Homo sapiens: one gene and its partners. The protein of the gene in region 1 purifies or fractionates together with the protein of each later gene. This does not show direct contact. Each region holds a gene or a part of one and is shown on either strand. Other genes may lie near its edges. The genes, in order: CHCHD3, MTX2 and NDUFAF4.

The links.
Region 2: the proteins of CHCHD3 (region 1) and MTX2 purify together in Homo sapiens (affinity purification with mass spectrometry; 3 studies listed by BioGRID and IntAct, with this or other methods). This does not show direct contact.
Region 3: the proteins of CHCHD3 (region 1) and NDUFAF4 purify together in Homo sapiens (co-immunoprecipitation; one large-scale study listed by IntAct). This does not show direct contact.

The regions. Positions count from the first base shown.
Region 1 is NC_000007.14:132,788,532-132,792,189, forward strand, and holds part of CHCHD3 (MICOS complex subunit MIC19), read right to left. Parts: intron 1-3,658. UniProt on the Homo sapiens protein: Component of the MICOS complex, a large protein complex of the mitochondrial inner membrane that plays crucial roles in the maintenance of crista junctions, inner membrane architecture, and formation of contact sites to the outer membrane.
Region 2 is NC_000002.12:176,331,872-176,335,529, forward strand, and holds part of MTX2 (metaxin-2), read left to right. Parts: intron 1-3,658. UniProt on the Homo sapiens protein: Involved in transport of proteins into the mitochondrion.
Region 3 is NC_000006.12:96,888,780-96,891,976, forward strand, and holds the end of NDUFAF4 (NADH dehydrogenase [ubiquinone] 1 alpha subcomplex assembly factor 4), read right to left. Parts: intron 2,613-3,197; coding exon 2,325-2,612; 3' UTR 536-2,324; downstream 1-535. UniProt on the Homo sapiens protein: Involved in the assembly of mitochondrial NADH:ubiquinone oxidoreductase complex (complex I). May be involved in cell proliferation and survival of hormone-dependent tumor cells. May be a regulator of breast tumor cell invasion.

The DNA of each region.
Region 1 (3,658 bases):
TTTTTACTATTCTCTCTGCAACCTCAACCAAATATAGATGGGTAATTTTTCAGCCAAATCATATCATGCTAAGAATGTTAGGCTCTCTTTCAGAAAGAGACAAGATGGGGCCTGGCTGGTCTGAGGATGAGCAGGCCAGTCTCACATAAAGACACTAAAAGAAGTAACATTTTAATAACCCCTTTAGCCACATTCACAAAATACCGTTACATGTATTAAAATTCTAATCCTCCAAGATAGCACAGTGGTTCAGCTGATTTGTGGTGACTCCTTGAAGACATGTGGGACCACCACAGAAAAGCACCAGGGCTGATCTATAAACATTTTGTCAAACTGCACTCACTTGCTACCAAAGGGTGGCAGGGGTGGTACAAAACCATCTCAATTCTATCAGGGAAATTAACAAACACAATGGCAGGCTGGATTTTTAAAAAAGATGAATTCATCTGTCAAACATTTTGGGTTATTATTATATTCCAGCTATGCGACAAAACCTGCTCCAACTCAGAACTCAGGGCTTTTGGCTGGAGGGATCCGTAGTCTGGTGGGGTCTGTGTTATTCAGCTTTCACCTTATAGGTTCTACTGTCTCTGTATTGGTTCCGTAAGTACTGCTGTTGGGCTGAATTTCAACGCTGCATAAATTTAACACTGCATAAATTAACATAGGAAATTCCCTAAAGAATGAGGGAGAAGCTTTGCAAGTTATAAAAAATTGCTTCCTTCATTTAAGGAACTGCTAACACTTAATCTTAATGTGGAGAAAGAAATTCCTTGCTTTTGCTCATCATTCACGTATCTGGGCCTGCAGAAACTCCTTTTATAAACAGCTGGGTAAATCACCAAAAGAAGAGAGTGGTTCAGGCATGAACACTGCTCTTTTCCCAAGTCTTTTTCTCATTCCAGCCACTGAAGAACAACCGGCAGCTCACAAATAAGAACAGCGCCCCTGGAGACCTGAGATTGCGTGTCATTTCCGCTTATTAAAACCTTACTAACCATCCTAACCGCTTGCCTCAAATATTTCTGTTAAGCAGTAATCTCATCAACTGATTTTTGAATCACAGCTTTCTTGGAGGGGTTGACTATCATAGCAGCATGCCAGCTACTGGTTGTGTTGATAATTTAAGAGAAATGATGGCAACCCTGGGTTGCTAACCAATCATCATGAAGAGAAGAAAAGCGGTTTGTTTTTTAAGATACCACTCAGGGTGCTTGTCTCTGGATGAACTTACCCAGCGCCTCACCAAGACTTCAGGCCTCATAAAGCTGGGTAGAGAAGCAGGAAGGTCTACCTAACCAAGGAAAAATGAAACTGGAGATGTGTCCTGGCACAGACCTGGTCTTAAGACACGAGTTTTACTAAGGAGGGTCAGGAAAAGTGGGGAGTGGGAGACACTGGAGCTTCGATGAGGAAAAAGCCAGAATGAGAAGACTGTGCATAAGACAGGAAGGAAAAGTCATCTATAAATTGAATTTATGGGAAGCACAAAGCGAGTTTTGCCTGTGCACCAAGTACTGTTCTTCACTACCTGGAAATCTGATTAGATCACTTATTTTGTTTTCAATATGTGTCTATTCCCCTGCAGCAAGAGCTGTTTGTTCTTTGTTCCTCCTGCTTTGGAGGAAATAGAAGTTAACTTTTTTCTGCCTGGATCTTGTTTTATATCTTCTATGACAAATGCTCTGTATAATATTCAAATTAAGTTACAAGTAATTAACTGTTTATACAGCTGGCTGCAATAACAGACAAAACACTAACATACTGCAGTTCTAATTGAAGGATGACCATGGGAAAAGAAATACCTATTAAGAAAAATGAAAATCTATTACCATGGTAGTATTTCTTCTATTAAACTCAGATTTAAAAAAAGAGAAAATGTCACGAAGCAACGATTACTCTCAGAAAGTGGTTTAGAAAAGGATTCCTATGATGGAAGAGGTTGGGATAGGAAATTTAAAGTTTGGAATTTTGTTTGCTTTGATCTGACTCTAAATTCAAAGGGCTGCCCTACCAAAAAAATGGGAAATCTATTATGAAATACCCACGTGTCAGTCACCCTGTGACCAGCATCCCAGCTGGGCAATTAATAAATGTCATCAAGCGATAATGATAAAGCAGCTTTCGAACACAATAAAAACATGCTCCTGGGGGGCTTCCCAGAAAGTTAACCTTCTTGATTATCTTCGTGCTCTCTGAAAGTGGCCACCGTGTACATCGGGGGGACCCTGATGTGGGTCGGGGAGAGAAGCAGGGTGACTGGGAGCAGTAGAACCAAGGGAGGGTCTGGTCACAGCTGTGAGCTAGCCAGGGGACTGGGGTCACCTACTGTTTCAATGGGAGCAAGAGAAGAGGGGAAGGGGATCTCTTTTCAAGGCTTCCATCTGATTCCCACATCATCTTCCAATTTGTTCTTAAGGCTAAAGATTCATTCCTAGGGTTGGTCTGATGAGACCTCTGCCAGGTAGCTTTGACCTATAGGGAGTGATAGCTCCCCATCTCCCAAAAGATGGAAAACAAGGACTTGGCAGGACCTCTGAAAGGTCAAAGACCTTTAATGCAATTCAGGCCAATGGGCTCTAAGAGCAATGGTTTTCAAACTTTGGGTACAGAGTCTCCTGGGAAATTTGGTCAAAGTTCAGATGCCCAGGCCTCACCCCAGACCTTCTGAATCAGAATCTCCAGGGATGGGGATTGGGTGGGTACATTTTAAGCAAACCCCTCAGGGGATTCTGATGCTCACCCACATCTGAGATCTGACACGACAGGAAAAATACCCTGGTTTTGAATTTAAGAGTGGGCTGTTTGGTCTGGGTTCTGCCCTTCTACAGATCATTTAAATTCTCTGGAAGCTAATTTTGCACATGAAAAAAATGAGGTTGGGTTATATGATCTCTAGGGTCCTTTTAGCTCCAACAGCCTATAAGTCTATTAAATCATTTGCATCTAATGTAGAGTTCATCTGAAAACAATGATAACATACAGCTTGCTCTGGCAATAGGTTTTTCTTTCAAGAACCTTGATTTTTAAGCAAAAGCTACTACTATGTTTTCAGGACCCCTTCATACTCAAAATATGTCACAGACTTAGGAGCAGAATCCTGGTCTAATATAAATACAGTTCACCGGGGAGATGAAATTGTCCTTCAGAAGGCGGACAGAAATTGTGCCAGGGCAAATTCCTCCATATGCACTGATCTTGAGGCTTTGACTTAGGAAGCCAACCAAATACTGGAGATGTCAATGATATTTTAGAAACGAGACAACGGGGTGCACTAGCCTTAAGTTGGAGAGCTGTCACATTAGGATCTAGCCTCATTTACTGGGTCCTGACCCCAAGTTCCTCACTGTGGCCAGGTTCCTTTCTGATCTCTCCAAAGAGATCAGCAGGAAGCATGTAGGTCTGAGGTGGGGCTGTCTCATTTACAAGACGTCCTTATTGTGAGCTGAACTAACTGTTTGCGTGGCTACTGTCCCACTGCCTGCTTACTGACTGAAACTTCTGCTATGGTTTGGGGGACCCCTGACAGACTCATCATCTAACTGCAGGTCCCACACTGACCTCTGTCCCTTGGGCATCTCCTGGGGTTGGTCCTTGCCTCTGGTCCCAGTTTGCCCTTGGTTGTCAGGCTCCAGGTTCCTGGCTTCCTGCTCTGTTT
Region 2 (3,658 bases), on another chromosome or scaffold:
TCTATTTTAGTTTTGTTATGCACACTGTCTTTAGAGGAGGCCAGGAGAATAGATCTAACTTACTTTTCTTCTCAGTTAAACTCATTGTCATTGTGTTAGTAACCAGAGTTTGGCATGTGACTCAGTGGAAATATCAAGATATCATTTTTCTTCATAAGGGCACAATTACATTTACACTTGTGATGAAAACTTCTAACTTAGAACAGTTCAAACACCAAAGCCTTGCTTTTGAGGAACTATTTAATTGATATTATGATGTAGAGTTTTGACATAATTTTCCTTTGCGTGATACTTAGATAAACATTTTCCCTAAAAATAAGATTAAAGATAGAAGAGATTTGATTTTTAATTTTATTCGATCATTTAATTAATACTAAAATGCAAATAAAGTACATTTAGAAAAAAGTAACTGGTATTTCACTTCCTTGTGCCAACATTTTTCTCATTCCTTTATCTGTAGCAGGAGTCATTACTTTGTGAGATACTATGTTGAATAGAGCTGTGGCCTAAGTCAGGTATTATACTGCAAGTCAGAGGGTCTGAATTCTATTCTTGGCTCTGACATATCTCTAAGTTACTCTAATTTCTCTATGTGTATGCCAGTCCTAAAATTAGAATTAACCCCCTACAATTAGAATTAATCCCCTAAAATTAGAATTAACTTTCCTTCTAGCTCAACTACTGGGGATGTTGGGAGGACTCGTGAAAGAAACCAAATACCGTTACTTGATGAGAGAAAAGGAAAAGGGTAGTTAAGGGAGATCTCACAGAAAGAATAATAATTGGGAAAAGAGGCCAAAAAGCAAGGGGCTTGATTTACAAAACTTGGGTGACAGCCCTAAAGATAAGTGATTAGGATGTAAAGAAAAGATAACGTAGATTATTTCTAGTACTATAAAGAGATGAAAAGTTAATGGGAAAGAACAATTAGGAAACACTCAGACAAAATTAATGCTTTTGAAAGCATTAATATAGATGATACTATGAAGGTATCAGAGAGAAATAAATGTGAAATAATGAATAAGCAAAGCAAAAAATATGAGTGCCAGAAAAATCTTAAATGGAAAATGTTAGGAAAATGTTGAATTTTACTGAGTGCCAGAAAAATCTTAAATGGAAAATGTTATGAAAACGTTGAATTTTACTGTTTTTGTTTTGATATTCAAATGAAAAAATAGTAGATAACCAACAGGAATGTGGAAAGAATAATAATGTAAGAAGGCATCAAATTTCTTAGGACTTTAAAAATATATTTGTCACCCTGGAATATTTTTCTAATAAAAAGTCTATAAAGATAAATGCAATAATATATGAAACATCTTAGAGCTCATAGGAGGGGAATTGCTATCTATATTTGAATTATAATCACAAACTATTTGGTAAGCAGAAGGGTAGAAAGTTGTGTTTTCTCTTCACGTGATATAGCAAGATAATTAAAATTGGAGGTATATGAAGATCTTGACTTGATTAAATAGTTCAGTAGAAATACTGGATAAAATATGTTACTTGTCTTTTTGTTAAGTCAGGTTTATTGATGTGTAATTTACATCTAGTAAAATTGGCACTTTTATGCGTGTAGTTCTATGAATTTTAACAAAGGCATACAGTTGTGTAACTGTCACCTATCAACTAAAATATTATTTGTACTTCTTAAAAAGACTTGTTGGAATCAGTAATTTATATATGTCAGAGTCAGTGTAAGGAGTTGCTCAAATTTGGAAAAATTACAAAAAATATGCTTTAAAGGTTAGTGTGTGTGGATATATACAGTCATGCCCTGTATGGCAACCTTTCAGTCTGTGATGGACCAAATATATGATGATGGTCCCTTGAGATTGTAATATATTTTTACTTACCTTTTCTGTGTTTAGATATGTTTAAATACACAAGTATTTGTGTACCATAAATACACATTATCATTGTGTTACAGTTGCCTACAGTATTCTGTTTGGCAATGTGCTGTATAGGTTTGTAGCCTATTAGCAATAGGGTGTACCATATACTCTAGGTGTATAGCACCATCTAGGTTTGTGTAAGTAGACTCTATGATGTTCACACAGTGAGAAAATTGCCAAACAGTGCATTTCTCAGAATGTATTCCTGTTAAGCAACACACAACTGTATGTGCTTTGGTTTAATCTGTTGAATTCTACTTCTGTTGATGTTCTAAAGTAACTTGCCACAAAGTTGCTGTCTTTATGTAAAATCAGATCAGTTTTTATATGCTCATGCCCATATATAATTCAGTACCTCTGGAGTTATGTGGATATATATTTGCAACAAACCACTTCAGGGGTACTTCTGGAGCACTCTCATTTGAGCATACATTGATAGTTGAACTCTTTCAGAGCCTTCATTTATTAATAAAGGGTGCCCATCTATACTACTGGAAGTTGCATCAGAGAATATATGCACCTTTTTTAGGCTCTAGTACAAGAAGTATAGGGTAGCTGGCACTAAACAAGGATTAGGAAAATAAGTTCTAAATTGGTAAGATAAGATGTACCTCTTAAGAAATATGTTTAAGGATGTGGAAGAATTGGTGTTTGTATTATTCTCACCAAGTGCCTCAGCTCAGCTCCCCATTTATCCACTCTACATCCTTGGTTTTTTGCAGGGATCTATTCATTATTGGTTCATTCCTGTGATGATAAGATTATGGTGCTGTTGAGTCTAAGGACCCTTGAGATTTTTTTTTTTAAAACTATACTGTTGGCTACCCATTTAAACATGGCCATAGATTGCACATTTGACTTTGATTAACACTTCATGAATGTCAAAAGAGTGGAAGGCTTTCAAAGAATGTAAGTTACTACTATTGAGAAAATTAAATATTCCACACATCTTAGGATGCTTTCTTTTTTAATTCATGTATTTATTCGGCAAGTGCTACTTCAGTTCCTTAGATACTGTGCTAAGAACTGGGAATATAAAGATATATACAGCATTGCCTTTGAAGAGCTTGGAGTGTAGTGAGGGAAACAGTTAAGTGAACACAGTTATAATATGGTATGAGAAGTGTGTCACCTTTTTATTGGTTCATTCAACACAAATTTATTGCACAATTCCTGCTTTGTGCAAGGAATTGTTCTAGGTATTGGGGTTACAGCAGGAACCAAGTAGGTGAGGTCCTTTCTCTACAGGACTTTCTGGTAGAGGAGATGCACAATAAGCAAAAAAAAAATTATATGGTATTAATTATCAAATGTAGAATTAAAAAAGGACCACATGATAAGGAGTGACTACATGTCCACTTTAATTTGAGTGGTCTGAGGAGACTTTAAGATGTGCCATTTAAACCTTATTCTAAAAAATAAGGAGCCAGTGTGAAGTCAGAGGAAGAGTATTTTAGGCAGCAGGAATAGTTATAGTCAAGGTTCCCTAATTGGCTTGAGTTTGTTACGTTCAAATGCAAGAAACAAGGCCAGTTTGGGTTGTATGCTATGAATGGTAGGATATGAGGCTAAAGAGGCAGGCAGAGGCCAGATTATCAAGGCTCTGTGTGCTTAGTGTAAGGAGTTTGGCATTTTAGTATAAGTAGAACAGAAATCCATTAGAATATTTTGTGCTTGGAGTTGGTATGATCTGCTGACATTAGTCATTCTGACCATGGTATGGAGAATGAGTAGAAGCAGTAAGACACTTTAGGAGGCTATCT
Region 3 (3,197 bases), on another chromosome or scaffold:
CACCCGTGATCCAGAATCCATGAACCCAGGCGTCTCCCAGACTTACACCAGCCTCTCACAGCAGACATCTGTATTTTCCCAGAATTCTACAGATGATTCTCATATACGGTGAGCATTGAGTAGTCCTGTCCTCATATGCCTCAGGCACTTTGCATGACATCTCATTAATTCTCATAATCTTACAAAGGCAACATAGCGTATCAGTTAGAAGCACAAGGTTCTGAAAATAACCTAACAGGACTAAATCCAGGCTTCAACACTTACTAAGTAATCTTTGAAGTTACTGAAGCTCTCTATGCTTCTAAAATATGGCTACTTATCCTTGTACCTATGGTAAATATTAAGCAAGTTAATACACGTAAAGCACTTCAATCAGACCCTAGTACAGTAATTACTTTTAAAATGTTAGATGGCATGGCTAGTGGTGATCCTGAGATCTAAACTGTTTTCTGAATCTAAATTCCATGCACTTTCTGACATCACTGCTACCAAGTGCTCTCCTGTATATAATAAAACGCAGTATAGGACTGATGAATGGTATGGGAAGAAGTTCTTTATTTTATCATGTGACACCACATAACAGATGCCTAACCACACAATGTAGATATGAATAAAGAAGATGGCTCAGAAGAGTGTACTAGTATTTGTGACTCAGCTAGTGACCATTATGATAAAAAGAATAAAGTTTTGACTTATTTACAGTTTTAAAATGCATTTTATATTGAGTAGTTATTTCATGTTTTCTTAAAACAATTATTGTATTGAACTAAAAATAAACTAGGTAGTTTGTTCACATAACAAATCTACATTCAAAGTCATGCTTACAAATTTTCCACTTAGTCCATTTTTCTGTTCTCAGCATTACTACAAATGCCTCATTCCGTCATCACATTGAATTCTTCAACATCCTCTATATCATTTCCAGGGGCATCTCTGGGAAGTAGTGATGCCTATCTTCCCTCGGAAGCACTAATAACCCTAATATACCCACAATTCACACCTTTTCCCTTCTTTGAGGTGTGCTGCTTTTTGGCAAGACAGAAAAAACACACTACTAGGATTTGAAAAACTAAATTCTGGGCCTGTTTAAGTCATAAACTACAGAATCTTCGGTCATATATTCTCCCCAGGCACTTGTTTCTCCACCGCAAAAAATAATTCCTATTTGCTTGGTCCTTTGTAGTCCTTTATTATTTATCTTCATGATAACCCTTACATTTAGGGTAGCATTATGCTTATTTTATAGAAGAAACTCAATCTCCAAGAAGATATAGTCTCCCAAAGATCCCCCAAGTAGTAATATATTAGGCAGAGCTAAACTCACACACTCACTCAAGATCCTAGTACTGGTACATGCTATGCTAATTAAATTTGCTAAAATGGATGAAATGGCAATTTCTCAGGTCCCTTCCAATGATCCTGTTCTCTGCTTCTACTTGCTATCTTTTTCTCTTCTCTCAACTAGCATTAACATCCGAAACTATATGTAATCACCAAATTTCATCTACCATGGTTTTTTAATTATTCTTTAAATTTTTCTCTATTTCCACATTAAATCCAGAGAAATGTTACTTTTTTGAAAGTTTCTGCTTCCTGCCTCTCTGAAGGCCATGGGACTTAACTATTTGTCAAAGCAGAAATTCCCATGGGACTTACCTATCTGTCAAAGCAGAAATTCCCAACATTTTGTAAACACCACTAATTACTTTTTATAACTGTAAAGACAATTATTCCATACTTAAAACCAATTCAAAATAAAATAAATCCTCAATACTTCTTATTCCCTGGAGTAGTAATTTTAATTAGATTCTATTGATTCATTTTCTCCTGTGTGCCTTTATTTGGGAACTACTGTTAGTCTACCCTGCTATCGAGTCTCTTTCCCTAACGAGAAAATGTCAGTCTTAAGGGTCAGGAAAGCTTTTACTTTCACTATCGCATGAGAAGAATGAACTAAACACCTAACTTGGAAAGTAAAACTCAGTTGAGGGATTCAGGACATTTCCCAAGGGGTAATATGACCAATTTAAAAGTTGGTATATGTGCCTAAAATAACAAATTAACTCTTTCACCATAATAAAGGTACAGATGTGCTCAGTCATGCTGACATGCACTTATGAAATATGCCTAAACCAAATTAAAATAAAACAAAAGATATTCTATGGCAATCTTGAAAAGTCAGGGAGCTCAATAAATATTAAGAGTATGCCCTCACAATGAGAGCATTAAATATTTGGTAATTAACATAATTTATTACGCAAAAAATGAGAAAATATACAGCAGGAGGGATGAGGAGTACACATAGGAAATTTCTGTGATTTTCTTCATTTTGATCGTATTGCTTTCTTGTCTTCAGGAGGGAAGATTTCGACTTCAAAAGTAACAAAATATTTAAGAAGAGAATTCACATCTTTCTGTTCTAACTGGTATTCCTGCATTATTTTCTCAGCAGTCCAGGTTTCTGGGAAAAGCTTATGATTATTGAGAAGTGTCAATGCTTCTACAATGGAAATTTTGCCTTTGGGAATGCTCTTAATATTTATCATATCAAAATGATGGTCTTTCGGCAATCTGAATTCCTTCGGCTCTTGACATGTTTCAGCAGCTTTTACCTAGTATCAAAAAAAAAAGGTTTTAGGATGAGAGAAAAGATTTGACATCTACTTTCATACTTCTCAAATCTACACTATTCCTCTTCAAATAACAACTAATATGGTTTGGATCTGTGTCCCCACCCAAATCTCATGTCACCAAATTGTAGTCCCCAAAGTTGGACGTAGGGCATGGTGGAAAGTGACTAGATCATGGGAGTGGATTTCCCTCTTTGGTGCTATTCTCGTGATAGAGTTCTCACCAGATATGGTTGTTTAAAAGTGTGTAGCACCTCCCCCACACCCCGCTTCTGCTTGCTCTGGCAATATAAGCCGTGCCTGCTTCCCATTCCACCATGATTATAAGTTTCCTGAGGCCTCCCCAGAAGCAGAAGCTGCTATCCTTCCTGTATGGCCTGCAGAATCGTGAGCCAATTAAACATCTTTTCTTTATAAACTACCCAGTCTCATGTATTTCTTTACATCAGTGCAAGAATGGATTAACACAAATTCTATATACGATTTTCCAAACTTCATTTTCTTATTATAATGAGCCATAGTTTAATAGTACTTTTGCCACATTGCCTTTTCATAACTATAGCTCTA